4 separate regions of the Homo sapiens genome follow, and all the other regions are reported to be linked to region 4. Evidence: microRNA targets listed by miRTarBase, many of them from high-throughput screens and not tested one by one. Region 4 holds a microRNA gene; each other region holds the end of a gene's coding sequence.

Evidence for each region. The annotated mature microRNA hsa-miR-4797-3p reads UCUCAGUAAGUGGCACUCUGU and lies in region 4 at 2,850-2,870, shown strand. An mRNA with a match to its seed (bases 2 to 7 or 8) in the 3' UTR can be bound and repressed. Matches are read on the target gene's strand: a 7mer-m8 pairs with bases 2 to 8, a 7mer-A1 pairs with bases 2 to 7 and ends in A, and an 8mer does both.
Region 1: the mRNA of CCDC59 is a reported target of hsa-miR-4797-3p. The part of its 3' UTR that is shown has no 7-base or 8-base seed match.
Region 2: the mRNA of ZNF236 is a reported target of hsa-miR-4797-3p. Seed matches in the 3' UTR shown: 7mer-m8 at 3,181-3,187.
Region 3: miRTarBase lists HOXC8 as a target of hsa-miR-4797-3p. Seed matches in the 3' UTR shown: 7mer-A1 at 1,862-1,868.

Annotation. Positions count from the first base shown.
Region 1 is chr12:82,349,727-82,353,726 of GRCh38, reverse strand. It overlaps CCDC59 (coiled-coil domain containing 59), which reads left to right. Exons shown (of 4, transcript NM_014167.5): 4 at 415-1,424. The coding sequence ends at 576. Among named protein-coding and RNA genes, the nearest start is that of CCDC59, 6.7 kb to the left of the region's middle.
Region 2 is chr18:76,967,964-76,971,963 of GRCh38, forward strand. ZNF236 (zinc finger protein 236) reads left to right here. Exons shown (of 31, transcript NM_001306089.2): 31 at 252-4,000. The coding sequence ends at 376. Among named protein-coding and RNA genes, the nearest start is that of MBP-AS1, 10 kb to the right of the region's middle.
Region 3 is chr12:54,010,616-54,014,615 of GRCh38, forward strand. It overlaps HOXC8 (homeobox C8), which reads left to right. Exons shown (of 2, transcript NM_022658.4): 2 at 474-2,154. The coding sequence ends at 766. Among named protein-coding and RNA genes, the nearest start is that of HOXC8, 3.6 kb to the left of the region's middle.
Region 4 is chr3:197,292,124-197,296,757 of GRCh38, reverse strand. MIR4797 (microRNA 4797) reads left to right here and starts at 2,810; the gene lies at 2,810-2,880. It overlaps DLG1 (discs large MAGUK scaffold protein 1), which reads left to right. Exons shown (of 25, transcript NM_001366207.1): 3 at 281-412.

The DNA.
Region 1 (4,000 bases), not on the chromosome of region 4:
CTTAAGCTGGTGGCAGATTAGGAGAAAGCAGGAAAATTTCTTCATGGGAATACTGGACCAGTATTAACTAGCACAGCTTTATGCTTTTTCCAACCATCTGTCACCTTTGGAAACAGTATATCAGATGAAGTGCAGTAATGACCATTATGCTGTAAAACATTTAATGTCCTTTTAAAATTTTGTTTATATAGAGCTGGGGCTTTGTGATCATGAAAATTCTCTGTTATACCATGGGTCATTATAATATGAAGGCAAAGAGGGTACTTTGCTTCAATTAGGAGAAACAGTGCACATCTTGCAAAATAGAAGAGACAAACCTTAGAGTGTTTGCTTAGTAATAGCTATTTCAAGACAATTTCTGAACTGTATCTACTGTTTGTTGCTAATGAAAGTTACATATGTTAATAATTTTAGGAATTCGAGAGGAGAAAACAGGAGAGAGAAGAAGCCCAAAGGCAGTACAAAAAGAAGAAAATGGAAGTGTTTAAAATACTGAACAAAAAGACTAAAAAGGGCCAACCAAACTTGAATGTACAAATGGAGTACCTTCTTCAAAAAATACAAGAAAAATGTTAAACATTTTGTTCCTACAGGTTAAAATATCTGCTGCCTATTAGGTTCTTCTGTGACATGTGCCTCCCAGCAGTGAACTAAATTTGTCGACATAAACTGGATTGCTAAACTATGCTAAATATAAGATGTTCACATATTTTTATTATGGTAAAAAATTTTCTAAATATGTTCTACATGTTTCTTATTTATTTGCCTCTGAAGGAAGGTTGGCCTGAAGAACTGAAAGAACCTCTTATTTTGCAAGACAGGCCCAAGCATGTAATACTTTTGTACCATATGAGATTTATATGAAATAAATTTTTTAAAAATAAGGAATCAGAGCTATCAATGAAGCATTTCAATGAAATATTTCAATTTAGTAAACAGTTACGTTGTTTTAAAATTTATTTTAATGATGAGGGAGGCAAAGACTCCTCTTGGACTTTTTATTTATTTTAAGTACATGTTACAGGGTGATGGGTGCTGAAATAAACTGCCCTCACCATATAACAAAGCGACCTTCACAAAGCAGTGAACTCAAAGTCTGATATTTATAAACATTCCCTTAAATGGATGTACATGGCTTGTTAGTCTAAGGTCTTTTAAATAATGATGGAAACCCCACAGTGTCACAGCAAGAATTAAGCTTTCCAGTTCCTATGGACCCTATACTTTAAGAACATTATCTCTGTCTCCCTTGTTGGTACCCTTGTGAGCTGAGATAAGCCACTGGGATAACTGCTTCTCATGCTTTGCAAATTGCAGAAGAATGAGAAAGGCTTGAAATATATATATAGTCATTGTAAGCAAAAAGGGCTGACCAATAATACTTGCCAAATATTGAATAATAAAATTTTATAAATGATAGCAAATACAGTCTGAAATTGCATTAAGATTTTAGGGAGCTCTTTCAGTCTACTAATTTATTCTGCATTTCAAGATCAGTAGAAAGTGCTTAGATAACACTGAACTTAATCTTCATTGCATAGAAAAGCAATGCTTTAGAAATTTGCATTGCACTATATTGCATTTAAAGTAAGCAGCCCAGAAAGCCTAAATTTGGCTACATTGGTGAAGACACATCACATCATGATGGAGGATAAATTATTTCAGTAAATTGCTTTACAATTTTTGTGCATTTTCACTTCTAGACACTTAATCATGACAAAACATGGAAGGAGATCTAGTCCTTTTGAGAGACAAGTGAAAGTCAAATTATATTCATTTTAACGACTTTGTTAAAAGCTACTTTATGCAAAACTTATATTAAGGAGTTACTCTTTAAAATTCCAAAGTTCTTGTAGAGGAATAAATGCCAAGTAATGGTATAATGGGGGAAAAAGTAATCAGTGACAATCAGATAAAGCAAAAGGTTAAGATTTTAGTGTTATCAATGAAGCACCCAGGAAGCTTTTCCTTTTTCGTTTTTTTTTTTTTTATTATCTTGGTGGTGGACAGTCTCCCGCCCACGCTGCAGTGCAGTGGTGTGATCATGGCTCACAGCAGCCTCAAACTCCTGGGCTCAAGTTATCCTGCTCAGCCTCACGAGTAGCTGGGACTACATGTACGTGCCAACACCTGGCTAACATTTTCTGTAGAGATGAGGTCTTGCCAAGTTCAGCCTTGCCTGGGCTGGTTTTGAACTGGCCTCAGGGATCCTTATGGCTCAACCTTGGCCGTACAAAGTGCTGAGATTATAGGTGTGAGCCACTGTGCCTGGCCTATAGGCTTCTTAAGAGGCATGTTTGAGGACCCTACACTAAGGAATTTGGATACTGTAGATGGGCTTAGTAATGGATGTTTTAACAGGCAACCCCAGTGATTCTGCTGGGTTGCTCCTCGCCACACTTAAAAAATGTTGGACCAGGGCCTCAGAGAAGAAAGAGGTTTTGTTTGGTTTAAGAAATCAGAGAAAGTTTCATGTGTGCAATAGCATTTAAGGAAAGCCTTCGAGGTTAAAAAGATTAGAAGTGTAAGAGCATGAGGAAAGTTACAAAGGGAAGCAAGCTTGGTATTATTTAAATATCTAATAAGTAGTTAGAATATATTATTATTGATGGAGGTAATAGTTCCTATCGGTTCCCTATTGTTTCCTTCCATGTGGAGAAGACACCATCATCCAAACACTCATGGTATCTTTACTTCTTGTCCCACTTGTTCCACCCAGGGGAGGTAAAGTAATAAATGATGTCTGGGAGGAGGACCTGGGCTGTCAGCAGAGTGCATGTACTCTTAATTGCTATTCTAATACTATAAGTGAAGAACAGGCTATATTGATAAATGTTAGAAGGGGGATGGATATTTTTGGAAAATATATATAGAAATTTGTGCTATATGGGTTAGTACATCAAGAAATAAAAGAGGAATAAAATTTGAAGGAGCACAACATAGAAAGAGAGAGGCTTAATTGTGGCCATAGCTTATGGTTTCTGGTTTCAGACCTTAATGTATACGTAGGGAGCTTTGATCTTGGTAGTTTGTAGAGGCTTCTATTAGGGCTATTAATTTGACTTTGTAAGTGTGAAGTAGGCTTTTAGTTGCAGTTTTGGCAAGAGGCTTTAAGACTTAAGGCACGTGGGATTTTGACCTAAAAGTTTAGGATATCTTTGTCCAGAGAAATTGGTAATTTCTATAGAGACAATGTGCAATACTGGGCTTTAAGCACATATGCGCAGGCCTCAATGAAGCAGAGTTTGAGTGAGGGTGATGGAGACATATTGGCTTCAGCAAAGACAGAGAATCTGGAAGTGGGGCTCACCCAAATGCTGGCCTCATGGATGTCCTCACCAGATGCCAGCCCAAGGTGAGGCTTAGCAAGCTACTGTAGTGGTGCTGGCATCAACAAAGGCACTGGCATGTGCAAGTGGTCTCATGCAGGCTACTGCAGCTTGACCTTGGCCTACATTAAATATGCATGTGTGAGCAGCAAAGGCCTCACTCATCAGATGCTGCTAACTCGACACCAGAAAACAATTTTATTCGTGGCAAGGATTTAATGATATAAGAAGAAATATTCATAGCTATGCTAGATGTTAATGACTGTATCAGTATTTGCTACTTTTAAAGACATGTGCCTTGGTTGCAATATAAAGTTCTAGAAAAGCTCAAGGTCTAAATTGTTCTGAGAGTCATTGAAATGCTGTGTAAAAGAGAAAATTTTGAATCTGAAGATATTTGAACATACTGGGAAAAGATCAGGTCTCCTTTGACTTGGTGATTGGGACTGGACCACTCCAAATTCTATACTTGGTAAGATAGCATCAGTGTTTCAGATGTCACTTTCTGAAAGAGAAGATAGAGTACCATGCTAAATGCATGGTGAAAAGTTTAACTTGTTGCTGACAAATTTCTTCCAACTTAGTTTAAGTGTGCAGCTCATGTGACTGGCATTCTGATAAGGCTAAAGCCATCACCGGTTATCTTCCTTCCTACTGATTCATGAGTTCCT
Region 2 (4,000 bases), not on the chromosome of region 4:
ATGTAGCTGTCATAGGAGTGCACTCATATCACCAGTGCTGTGTGTGCGTTCATACTCCTAACAGTAACTACTGTCCTGCCGGCAGAGGTGTTTCACCTGCAGCTCAAATTACTCTTTTTTCACTGGAATGAAAAGCAAATTACTTTAGAAATTCCTTGTCTCTTTCTACCAGAAAGTCTTTATTTAAATAGGAATCATTTTGTGCTCTGGAAGGTCTGAGGCTGCTTGTGTTTTCTTTGTCTGCATAACAGGAGCTCTGCAGGAGTCTGCAGGTCACCCGGAGCAGGACGGGGAGGAGCTGAGCCGGACCCTCCACCTGGAGGAGGTGGTGCAGGAGGCCGCCGGCGAGTGGCAGGCCCTCACCCACGTCTTCTGATGCGAGTTGGAAGTACACCTTTAAGAATGTTTCTGAAGTTACGTTTTGTGAAGAGCAAAGCACTTGGAATCTCCGTTTTAAAGCTTCAAGTGTTAAAAATGCTACAATAGTTTTTTATCTATAAAATTATCTAAAGAATCATTGTCTTTCAGAGACTCATAGGAAAAAAAAACTAGGAAAAGTGTCACCGCATTGTTCTCTTTTGTCTACAAATCACTGAACTCAGGTACTACTGTAGGCAGTTTCCTCCTCAGTCTCCTCCGTGGCTAGTGTGTCTAGTTCACGAAGCAATTAACTGGGTCTTACTATCATTGTAGTGTGATTTCTTTGTATTAGCAAAGACAAAAACGCTAACATTGAAAAAGTATGTCAGATTTTCCTTCATGTTTCTGGTTATAAGAAGCATAGCTTACAAAGCAAGCGTAAGATTGAGGCATGAAGTTCAGAAAAAAAAGTGTTACAACACACAGGGAAGTTTTTTCCACTCTTTTCTCTGTGCATTTTGAAAATTAGTCAAAATGGACTCTTTTCAGTCTACCATAAGTTAATATAACTGATACCTTGAGAGATGGCTGGACCAATTCTCTCCATGACAAATGTTTAATCATTAGTTACAAGAATGCAGTATCTGGGGCGTCAACATGGGGACTCGAGTAAACCTGACCCACCAATAAGGATTCAGCTGTCCACACGGGCTGGCGACACACTTACCGCATCAATCTGTGTTCAGGTCCAGGGTTACATAATTGCAGAAGCACAAGCCATACATCGCAGGTAGGAAACCACAGAACCGTCTGCAAGGAGCAAGCAACGGTGGCCCTGTCCACCCCAGCAAATAAGAAGCATATCTGTAGCTTAAGGCCACGAATCCGTAAAAACCCCATGACTTTCTCTTCGTGCATAAACAGATGTATTTTTGATTTCAGGGAATTCTTTAGTATCGTCAATGGTGCCACATAAAACATGTCCCAAACCAAATCCCACCCGTGCTGGGCAGAGTGCGTGCACGCCATTCCTACAGCATTCCAAAGATGGAAGGTTCTTTACTTCATGTTAATTTTTCCTTTGAAATTATTTATATGTTCTATATATAAATACATATGTACATAGATATATGGGCCTCTGTGTGGCTGAACAGTATATTTTGTAAATATAAGTACTAGTCCTAATTGCAGAAAGAGCGTCAGTTTCACCTCCCCACGAGCACTTCAGATCAGTATTGTATTCATTTTATTCATAAATGGATATCTTTTTCATTGTCATATAAAGCTGGGTTTTATTTTTTTTTCCTGAAAAATAATTGCCTTTATTTTCTCTCGTTGCCTCCTTGGTTTCAGAAGAGAGTAGTTTTATTATAAATATTGTATGGACTTTGTATATTAAGAGAGGAGCTCATTTCAGATTCCTAAAGAAATAGACATTTTACTGTTATTTTGAAAGGGCATCTTTTGATTTTTTTGTTGTTGTTGTTCACTTTTGGCATATGTATATAAGTAATATTGACGGTGATATGAAAACTTTTGTTATGTGAAGATATTTAAGTCAGAAAATTGTTAAATAATATTACTTCTTTTCCAAACTGCTTTGTGTATTGTATATTTTTTTAAGAAAAAGAAAAGCCTTATTTGACTTATGCTTGTGATACTGGACTTCTTACCAATCCGGAGGTTTCCTTCCTTGAATGTCAGTGTGTAAACCTGGCTGTAGCCGCATATGCAGAATAACTGTAATTGTGCTAGAGTTTTAAAGGTTCTGCTTTTAATGCACTTTTTATTTTATAATTTTGTATTGAAATATTTTAGAAATGTTGATTAATTTTGGTGAAAAAATATCCCCAAAGTGGAAATTATTGGAATTTTAAACTTTTGTTCTTGCTGGGTTATTTATTTTGATTTTAGCATTAAATGTCATCTCAGGACATCTCTAAAAGGGGTTGTTTAATTCCTAATTGTATAGAAAGCTAGTTTGGTGAATTGTATTGGTTAATTGACTGTTTAAGGCCTTAACAGGTGAATCTAGAGCCTACTTTTATTTTGGTTAAAGAAAAAGAAAATATCAATAATTCAATTTTGTGTCTTTTCTCAATTTATTAGCAAACACAAGACATTTTATGTATTATTTCGATTTACTTCCTAATTATAAAAGCTGCTTTTTTGCAGAACATTCCTTGAAAATATAAGGTTTTGAAAAGACATAATTTTACTTGAATCTTTGTGGGGTACAGGTTGATCTTTATATTTTACTGGTTGTTTTAAAAATTCTAGAAAAGAGATTTCTAGGCCTCATGTATAACCAGGGTTTTGAGGATAAAGAACTGTATTTTTAGAACTATCTCATCATAGCATATCTGCTTTGGAATAACTATAAATAAAAGATGAAGTTAGGAAATGTGATTAATTTTTTTCGTTTGAAAATATTTAAGATAAAACAGTTTGGCATGTAAATTAATTTCAAGTTCAGATATTTTTAAGAGAAAACTTTAGTGGTATTTTCCTTTACCTCTGTGAAGTTCAGAGGCGTTTACCCCTGCAGTGTCCACTGGAAAGGCTTCAGACTTTCAAAATCAGGGCATGGCTCCGCGACAGCGAGCCGTGGGCGTCAGCACAGTGCCCTGTGCATGTGTCAGAACTGTTCCTGTTCCCTTTCATTTGCTGCTTTATTCAACGGCACCCAGTCATTGAGGAACCTTTTGAAAGTTCCTAAGTGTTTTGATCCTGCTTGTGTGCTCAAGTAACCATGAAGCACTGAAGCTGAAAGAATGAATTGCCTTTGCAAAGATACCAAACGTGAAGGTGGGGTGCAGGTACTGAGGAAGCAGGAGGCATGTAGCATGTGTGGAGTCCCACCTGCTAGATAATGCCCAAGCGGCTGCGTTTCCATAGAATGGCAATAGATGAAAATGAAGACATGTTTTCAAACATGCAGATTGAAATGCTACCCCACCCCCATCAAGCTCTACTTTTTCCCCTTTGAAAAACTTGAGGCACTTAGAAAGTATCTAAATAGAGGAAATGCTATGACATGGCATCTGACAGCTTGCAGCCAGGTCAGTGGGAGGCTCATCAAATGCCACTCTCCTCTTCCTGACAGTGTTCTGCTGGTGGGACATGAACATCAGTGCTTGTCTGGCACTTAACTAGGGGATGTTTCCTTCGTGCATATTTTCTACTCCCCTGTTGTAATATTTTAAGGAAACTTGATCTTTGAAATTATAGCTAGTGTTCTGTGTCTTCCTTTGAACTCATATCACATTTATTACAAGAGACGCATGTGTTAGCACAGCTACACAATTTTTAGAAGTAGAAGTGGATTTCTTGTCTTGCTGTGGGTTTTCCTCATTTTAGAAGAATATTTGTAACTCATTAAGATACACATTTTAACATGAAATGACCATCACACAGATTTATGTTTGGAAATATTCAAGATAAAATAGTTTGGCATGTAAATCAATTTCAAGATTTATGTACATAAGATTTTTAAAGGAAATAGGTAAGATATATAGAACTGCTTTCTAGTGTATATTAAGGCTATCTCATGCCTGCTTCTTACATTTTTTTCTGAAGCTTATTTCAGAATTAATACCGTGCCCTTCCCTGACTAAAAAAAGTTAATCCAAGGATTGAT
Region 3 (4,000 bases), not on the chromosome of region 4:
CCAGCAGATCAATTATTTTTCTTATTGGAAAAGCATTAGGCAGAGAGAGACAAGGAGAGGGCAGTGGGCAGAGCCCCTCTTCTTTACCCCCAGCTTTTTTTCCTTTCTTTTGGAAACAGTCTGTCCCCAGCCTCGCTCACTAAATGCCCTGCTGCACTTGTAAACAAAGCTGCAAAGGCCAGTTCCTAGGATTACAGGCCTGGTGGGGGGGATTCTACAGGGCTCCCCAGCCCCTGAAAGGCCCCAGTTTCCAAACAGACCCTAGCCCCCACCCCCACCCCACCTCCCAAGGTGAAGCCAAACAAAAACAATCCCCCAACTTTTCTGCCCTTGTCTGCCTTCTGCTCTAGCCTTTTCCATAGAGGGGAGGCGAACTGAGGAGATCAGAGAGGGGAGTTTAGAGTAGGAAGAGTGGCAAAGGAAAACCAAGCCCCCATCCAAACGTAACCAGACTGGGGTTTTCTTCTGTCCAGCTCCGGGGAGGCGCAGTGGACGGCAAACTTACAGCCGGTATCAGACCTTGGAACTAGAAAAGGAGTTTCTCTTTAATCCTTATTTGACACGAAAACGTCGGATTGAAGTCTCTCATGCCCTGGGACTGACCGAGAGACAAGTGAAGATCTGGTTCCAGAACCGAAGGATGAAGTGGAAAAAGGAGAACAACAAGGATAAACTGCCGGGAGCCCGAGATGAGGAGAAGGTGGAGGAAGAAGGAAATGAGGAAGAGGAGAAAGAAGAGGAGGAAAAGGAAGAAAACAAGGACTAAGCAAAAAAGAAAGACCCCCCCCCCCTTAGCAACTCCCTTGAAGTTTCGTTTTATGGTAGCAGATAAATTGAGAAGTTTACGACTGTCATTTGCTTTTATAGAGAATAGAATGACACTCACAACTCTAACTACCTGTCAGATACTTGCAGCTCTGGTTTTATTACCTTTGGACTTCCCCCACTCTTTATTTGTTTGGGGGCTGGAGGGGGGAGACGGAGAAACAGTGAAAAGTTCGGACTCTCTGTCTCACTCCTTGCCCCACACACACTTGTCCCTGCCCCCACCCTTCTGAGTCCTTCCTGGATTTTAAGGTCTGAGACCTGGCCTCCGTGCTCCTCGGTCTGTCTCTCACCACACTCCCACCTCCCTGCTTCTCTGGTATTTATTTTAGAGGGGAGCCCCCTCGAAATGCAGAAAAGGACTTGTGGTTTTGTTTTTATGCTAAGGCTAGTGTACTAGATGTACTTTTTCTAAAAAGGAAAGGACAGAAAAAAATGAAGAAAGGAAAGGAAGACAAATGTAAAGAAATAAGGAAAAAAGCAAGGAATATCCCCTCCCCCTCCCCCTCCCCCTCCCCAGGGCTCCCTGCTTAGAAAAACCCCCTTGACTTTCTCTAGGAACCTGATGGAAACCTGAAGGAGATGTGGGTCTTTCCCCTCCCCCCATTTCCAGAAGGGTAGATAGGAGCCTGCAGTCGCCTCTAAAATCCTACCTAACCATCCCATGGTCACTCGGGCCCATGCCTTCCTCTCCTTCGCTGTTTGATTTCTATTCTGTTGGGCCCGCCTTCCTCTGAGCTGCATTAGTGTTAGTGCTCAGAAATCACCATAATCACGAAAATAATAATAATAAATCTTTAACATACTACCTAAAGGGAACCTGCAATAATCTTGAAAAAGAAAAAGAGAAAAATTTTAAAATCCTGCTATAGGAGAAAAAAAGAGAAAAAAATAAAAATCAAAAAAAAAAAAAAGAAAGAAAGAAACCTCCAGCGTATTTTATCACTACCTATAGAAAGAAATCCTGCTTTGAGAGTATTTGTAATGCGGTTTTGTTGTCGTTTGTTGCTGCTTATTTCACTAAGAAAACCCAACAACTGAGACTGCCTAGCCCGCCGGTCCTGTGCGCTTTTATTGTGCTTCTAACCCCAGTAGAGTAGAACTAAATTGCACTGAATGTATAGTTAACTCTGTCTTGAATTCTCTGTTTATGCAATGTGCTCGAAAGAAAAAAATGTTAAAAATATATCTATAATAATAATTTTTTGTCATTTGTCTTTATGTCCAGCTATGAATGTAGATTTTGTGTCCCGACAGCCCTGTTCCTGGTCCAAGTACTTTGTATTGTATACGTGAGTCATAATAATAAAAAGAAGAAGAAAAATAATAGAAGCTGGAATGACTTGCTTTTTCTCCACAGCTCTTCCCTATTCTCTACCTTCTCTCTCCTTATCCCCCTGTCCAACTCTCTGGAAAAGGTCTGCTTCACTGCTCTGGCTTTGGGGTTCAGAAACTCACGTGGAGAGAAGCCTGGGAATTGAGAAAGCATGCTGGCCTGGGAGGGCAGGTGAAAGGGGTGAGGGGTTGAGAGGAGGAAGAAAAGGAGCAGTCCATTGGTTGAGAGAGTAAGGAGTCTATAGGTATGCCCTTGGGGGAATCTTGGCTCCAAACAAAGTGGGTTTCCAGACGCCAGGATCCCAATGGGAAGAAAGATTTCCTCACTCATCCACCCTCCTCCTCCTCAGCCTTGGGCTGGGCCCAGACAAAGAATCTGCCCTATGCAACTATGACTTTTTCTTCCAGGGTCTGGGGCTGAGGATGAGATAGTGGGATTCCTTCTGATCTCCGCATGCCCCTTGTGGCCAGACCTTAGCACCCAGCACCCAGCACTAGAATAATGAACCGGGTGGGGATGTGTGAGGCTCAGGGCAACTGGCTGGCCTGTCTGCAGGGCTTGCCTGAAGATGGGGGATGCTAAGAATGGAGGGTGAGGAAGCTTAAGCCTGAAGGAGAGGAGAAAGGAAGGGGAAAGTAAGTGAGCTCGTAGGCAACCAGCCTGAGCCCACATCCTGAAATTCACATTCAATCCTCTGCACAGGAAGATTGTCATCACTGTCATTCAGCCCGCTTGCATCCACTCCAACTTCTGTTCAGACGGTTTAAAGTCCACTCCCCACTTCACCTTGGCAATTGGTCAGCTTACCCAGCCCCCATAGTGTGGGCCATTGGCCTGGAGGATGGGCCTGCTGAGTGGACATCCTGCCACCCCAGTCACAGCGGGGTAAGAGGGCGTCTTTATTGGTATCTTCATTCCCCAAAATGAAGAATTGAAGGCTCAGGGACCCAGGGGGTAGAAGGGTCTCTCACTTCTCTCTGGAGAGTCCTGGACTTAAAAATTCTGTTTATGCCAATAAGATTCTGGTCAAATAATCCCAAATTCCAGAGATACAAGTCTTCTGACTCAGTCAGGAGAGGGGAAAAGGGAGGGGAGGGATCTTCTGGTCTTAAAAACCAGACCCCCGAAGGCTGAAATATTTTTGAGGCCAGATTTTCTTTCTTTCTTTTTCTCTTCTCTTCTCTTCTCTTCTCTTCTCTTCTCTTCTCTTCTCTTCTCTTCTCTTCTTTCTCTCTCTCTCTCTCTCTCTCTCTCTCTCTCTCTCTCTCTCTCTCTCTCTGTCCTCCCCACCCCTCATCTGTCTAGCTCCTGGTCAATGATTTTCCCAGACCTAGGCCCAGGCCAACTCTTGTTTTGTGGAATTTCACCCAGGTCCCAGTCACTGGTCCCCACGCAAACCGGGCCTGAAAATCGGGCCTGAGTAGAGAATTGAGTCGGGCTTCCTTCACAGGGGGACTCCTGCAGTCCGAGAAAGGCTGTGAATTGGAAGCACAGGCTGCAGGCAGCTGGGGCAGCTTTGAGCAGGAGCTCCGGGAAATCTTCTCTAACCTGGGGTCCCTGCTGTGAGCAGCGGCACCAGCCAGGTAACCTGTTCTCAGTGGGAGACACCGGCTACCCACCAGGGAAGCCAGAAAAGAGGCCATTTCGCTCAGACCTCAGGCCTTCCCACAGGCGTGTCCTCCATACTCCGAGGGATGGCTGAGGTCCCGTTTCGTTTTTAAACGTGGAATTATGATTGCTATTAATAAAAATATCTGGCCCAGTAGCCTAGCGGAATGAACCCAGCATTAAATGGCTCCGAAGGGCCTCGCCGCCTTTTCCCCACACCAAATGTGCCAT
Region 4 (4,634 bases):
ATCTTTTACTTTGGCAAACTACCAGTACACATTTATTCCAAACTGCTCACTCTCCTCCGTTTTCTAATGTGATATATGTTTAAATTTTTCTTGTATTTCTTTAATTTTTTTTTTTATTTTTTGGTCATTCTAAGGAATATGTGTACATGAACATAGTGACATCAATTGACCTGAAGGATTTGCGGAACTATTTAGATGTCATGCAGAATTATTTGCACTAGTATGTGATACTTTTTTTGTAAATAGAGAGTTTTAATCAGGCTCTGCTTTTTCTTCTCAGATACCCAGAGAGCATTGCACCTTTTGGAGGAATATCGTTCAAAACTAAGCCAAACTGAAGACAGACAGCTCAGAAGTTCCATAGAACGGGTTATTAACATATTTCAGAGCAACCTCTTTCAGGCTTTAATAGGTGGGAATTAAAACTTCGTAACTATTATGCCAGCTAGGCTTTATGCTCCTCTCAATTCATTTATTTTAAACTTAAGAAAATGATGTACTTAATTCTCTGAGGCATTCGGTAACTTGAACATCTTCAGTGAGTTGTGTGTTTTTCATAGGCCAGTGTCCTTTCTTAAAATAACTAGTAACCAAAAAACTTTCAGGATTATTTCAGTGGCTTTTGAGAACATTGTTTCACATCTTAATAGCATTAACTATTAAAAGATGTTGCACAGATGTTTAAGGACCTAAAAGGTATGACTGAGTTACTGTGAGCTTGTTTCTGTATTTGACTGGCATGTCTCTGAAGTCATTGAAAGCGTGTGAAGGGTTCTGCTGTGTTGAAGAACATTCATTCCCTTAATGTAGATTTCTGTTTGAGCTTGGCATTCATGGAGTCAGAATTTTAGACCTGGAAAATAATCTTAGAGATGATCTTGTCTAGTAACCGTATTTTACAGGCAAGAAAATGGAAAGTTTTATTCTTAATTGTAACTTAATTTGAAGTGGTGCATTGTTTGAAAGAACTGGAAAAATAAGAGTCCTGAGTTCTTTTGCCACTAATTGAATGATATATCCCAAGTCATTTAATCTTTTCTATGCCACCATATTAGCTGTAGAATGTAGCTGTTGAAATGACAGAATGGGTTTAAAGCCTTTTTTAAGTAGATAAATCATTTTTAAAAGCATCATCTCATATTTTGTGTATAATCTCCTATGTATAAAACAAGGTGACTTGTCTGGCTCTTTTGTCCAGGTACCTCAAAAAGTTTGCAAACCACCGAACTAGAAAGTTTGTCTCTTCCAATTCTAAGAATGAAGTTTTTTTTTTTTGTTTTAGTTATCAACTATATAACATTTTAACATAAGAAGACATATACTTAATTATATTACATTTATTTCTTCAGTAACTTCCAGTCAGATATGGCCTTACATCTATCTGTTGATAGAATAATTGTTGGTGTGATTTGAAGACTACTTTCAAGTCAGTGTGTCCTGTCAGGTACATTATTGATAAATGGATGCTCTCTACGGTTTTAGAATGAAAGATTTTTGTAAAGACCACTTGATGCACCTGAACAATTTTGAAAAATGTAACATTTTAATAGACTTTTAAAAACATAAGGATACATAGCACAGTGTAATGAACTGCCTTTTAACTGTTACCCAGCTCCAGAAATTCACATTTTGCCATTTTTGTTTACATTGATGGACATTTTTTACACATTTGAATTTCTGAGGTTTAAGGTCCGAATGGATGATCAAATTGGATTCCTCTGGAAAAACAGCAAAAAGCATTTTTTAGTTATTTGTTTTCTAAATCAACATTGAGCCTAGTAATTTGGTGCAGTTACTGTTGCAAAAAAAGTATGTTTTTTCGCAACAGTATAGAGATATATATATACATATATGTATAGATAGGCAGATAGATAGACTGCAGACTTTTCTTTGTGTGATGGCTGTAACTTAAGAAAATTAAATCGTTAGTGAAATAACAGAATCTACATTTATATTTCTGTCTAGATTGGGGATGGGTTTGCTGTGTTCAGAGACATTTTTGACCTATTCTGCCTTGCCTGTTTTGAATGTGTCTATTCTTACGTACAATTGAACTTTGATAGAGTTAGCTTTCTTCTCTTTTTTTTTTTTTTTTTTTTTGAGGCAGAGTCTCACTCTGTCACCCAGGCTGGAGTGCAGTGGCGAGATCTCCGCTCACTGCAAGCTCCGCCTGCCAGGTTCACGCCATTCTCCTGCCTCAGCCTCCTGAGTAGCTGGGACCAAAGGTGCCCACCACCACGTCCGGCTAATTTTTTATTTTTTGTATTGTATTTTTAGTAAAGACGGGGTTTCACTGTGTAAGCCAGGATGGTCTCGATCTCCTGACCTCGTGATCCACCCACCTCGGCCTCCCAAAATGTTGGGATTACAGGCGTGAGCCACCGCGTCTGGCCTAGAGTTAGCTTCCTAATTACTAAGTTTATATTTGTGAATCTTCTAATTTCATTGGTTGTGAATTTACTTTGACATTTAAATTTACTTATATTTAATGTTCTATAGGATGTGGTACTATATCACATTTTGGTGTAAGACAAGTAATAGATTTTAGGAGTTTTGAAATAGATAACGTTTAATAGAGGTTCTGTGTGTTTCCATGCTATAATTGTTGATACTACGGAATAAATACATTCTCTTGTGTTTCCTGAATAACTTTTAATACTTAGTCTGAAAATGTTTAGTCTGATAAGATTTTCTTTGTATTTTGCAACTCTACCATTGTTTTGAAACAGTGTCATAAATGTACTTTAAGCTTGTAAACTGCCCTAAGCTAAACCAGTTCATTGTGTCCATAGTGTTTGCAGAAAAATCCGACTCAGAAGACAGAGTGCCACTTACTGAAAGGTTTTTTCTCTCAGTAAGTGGCACTCTGTCTTCTGAGTTGGTACCTGTGGACCACTGGATTAAAGGAGAACAGGGGTCTTGGCCACCTGAGCTGTTTGGAGTCATTGAGTGCTTAGATTTTTCACTTCCTTAATTTGGAAATCACTTGTTTAGGCCGCAGTGAGTTATCTAGTTATCTGTTTGGGGTGCCAAGTGTCTTTGGATTTTCAGTCTGCATTGATCATTTATTGATTGATTCTTTGAACTGGTAGTTTATATTGACTTTTCATGCATTTAAAAAAGTTTGAGTCTCTAGGGGTTTGGTGTCCCCCCCTGTAGTTGATACATAGATTAGGTTCCTGTACTTTTGGATTATTCAGAGGGACAAGCATGTACGTACTGTATTATATTTGTTCTAAAATACCAACTGTTAAATATTTCAATATCTGGTATATGTCATTTTTAATTGACAGTGTTTCTGTGTTCTGACACATGAAATAGTGCATTTTATAATTGATACTCGCAATGTAATATAGAAATCATTGGTCTAGTGCTGATAGATACTTGGTAGTATCTTTGAAGGATGGCTTAAAGATTTAAAAATTATTGAAAGCAGAAAAGTTTTTACTAATTTTGAATTTCAGCTGATGTATTGTTTCTTTAGAGCTAAATATTTAAAGTTGTATCTTAACAAAAGTCCATGAACTGCACATTTGTTTAAAATTTACTCCCAAAACATACCTGGTGATTATTTTTGTATAAAGGAAGATAAAGTCTGCTTAATTTCACTCTGTGATTTAGGTGAGAGCAATTTGAAAACTTGCTTTTGTATTCCAGTTTTTTGTGCTTAAGTTTGAAAATTTTTTGAGTAGACGGGATATGGTTTGATTATAATCAGAGCCCAGGTATTCAGGTCCATAGTGGTTTCAGTTCATTCATGATTCTAAGGTGTGTGGGATCTGAGATGACACTGCTAGTCCATAGAGACTTCATACCAGTCTAAACCCCTGCAGTTATTTCTTACGGGATCAGAGAACTCATCTGCTTTCCTTGTGCATGAGAAAAACTGGGGCCCAAGATTAGGCTGGCTTTAGAGACTTGAGTAAGTTGAGTCATGTGATTTGTATATTTTGTCTGCAATAAATAAGCTTATTCTAATGCAGTGTTTTATTTCTGCAGAGATTTCAGAATGAAAGTGGATTATGTAATAATACTGTCCATTTATGAGTTTAGTTACCAGTTCATTTGTTGCCACTCTATTAAAATCTAATAGTTTCACTAGCCCTTATAAAAGGACATTACCCTATCTTTATTTGTAGATACTAGTTTCAAAAGTATGACCCCTTTGCCATCTTCACCATCTTTAAATGTACAGTTCAGGAGTGTGAAATGTATTCATATTGTTGTGAAACAAATCTTCAGAACACTTTCGTCTTGCAAAACTGAAATCCTATACCGAATAAACAACTGCTCCCCTTTCCTCTCACTTCCCAGCCCCTTGTGACCAACGTGCTGCTTTCTGTTTCAGTGAATTTGATCATGTTAGAAACCTCATAGAAGTATTTGTCTTTTTGCGACTGGCTTATTTCACTCAGTGTAGAGTCCGCAAGGTTCATTCATGTTGTAGTTGTTGACAGGATTTTCTTCCTTTTTCAGGCTGAATAATATTCCGTTGTATGTATATACCGCATTTTATCTAGCCATCCATTGATGGACAGTTGGGTTGCTTCCTCCTCCTGGCTGTTGTGAATAATGCTGTTAGGAATGTGAGTGTGCAAATATTTCTTCAAGACCCTGCTTTCAGTTCTTTTGGA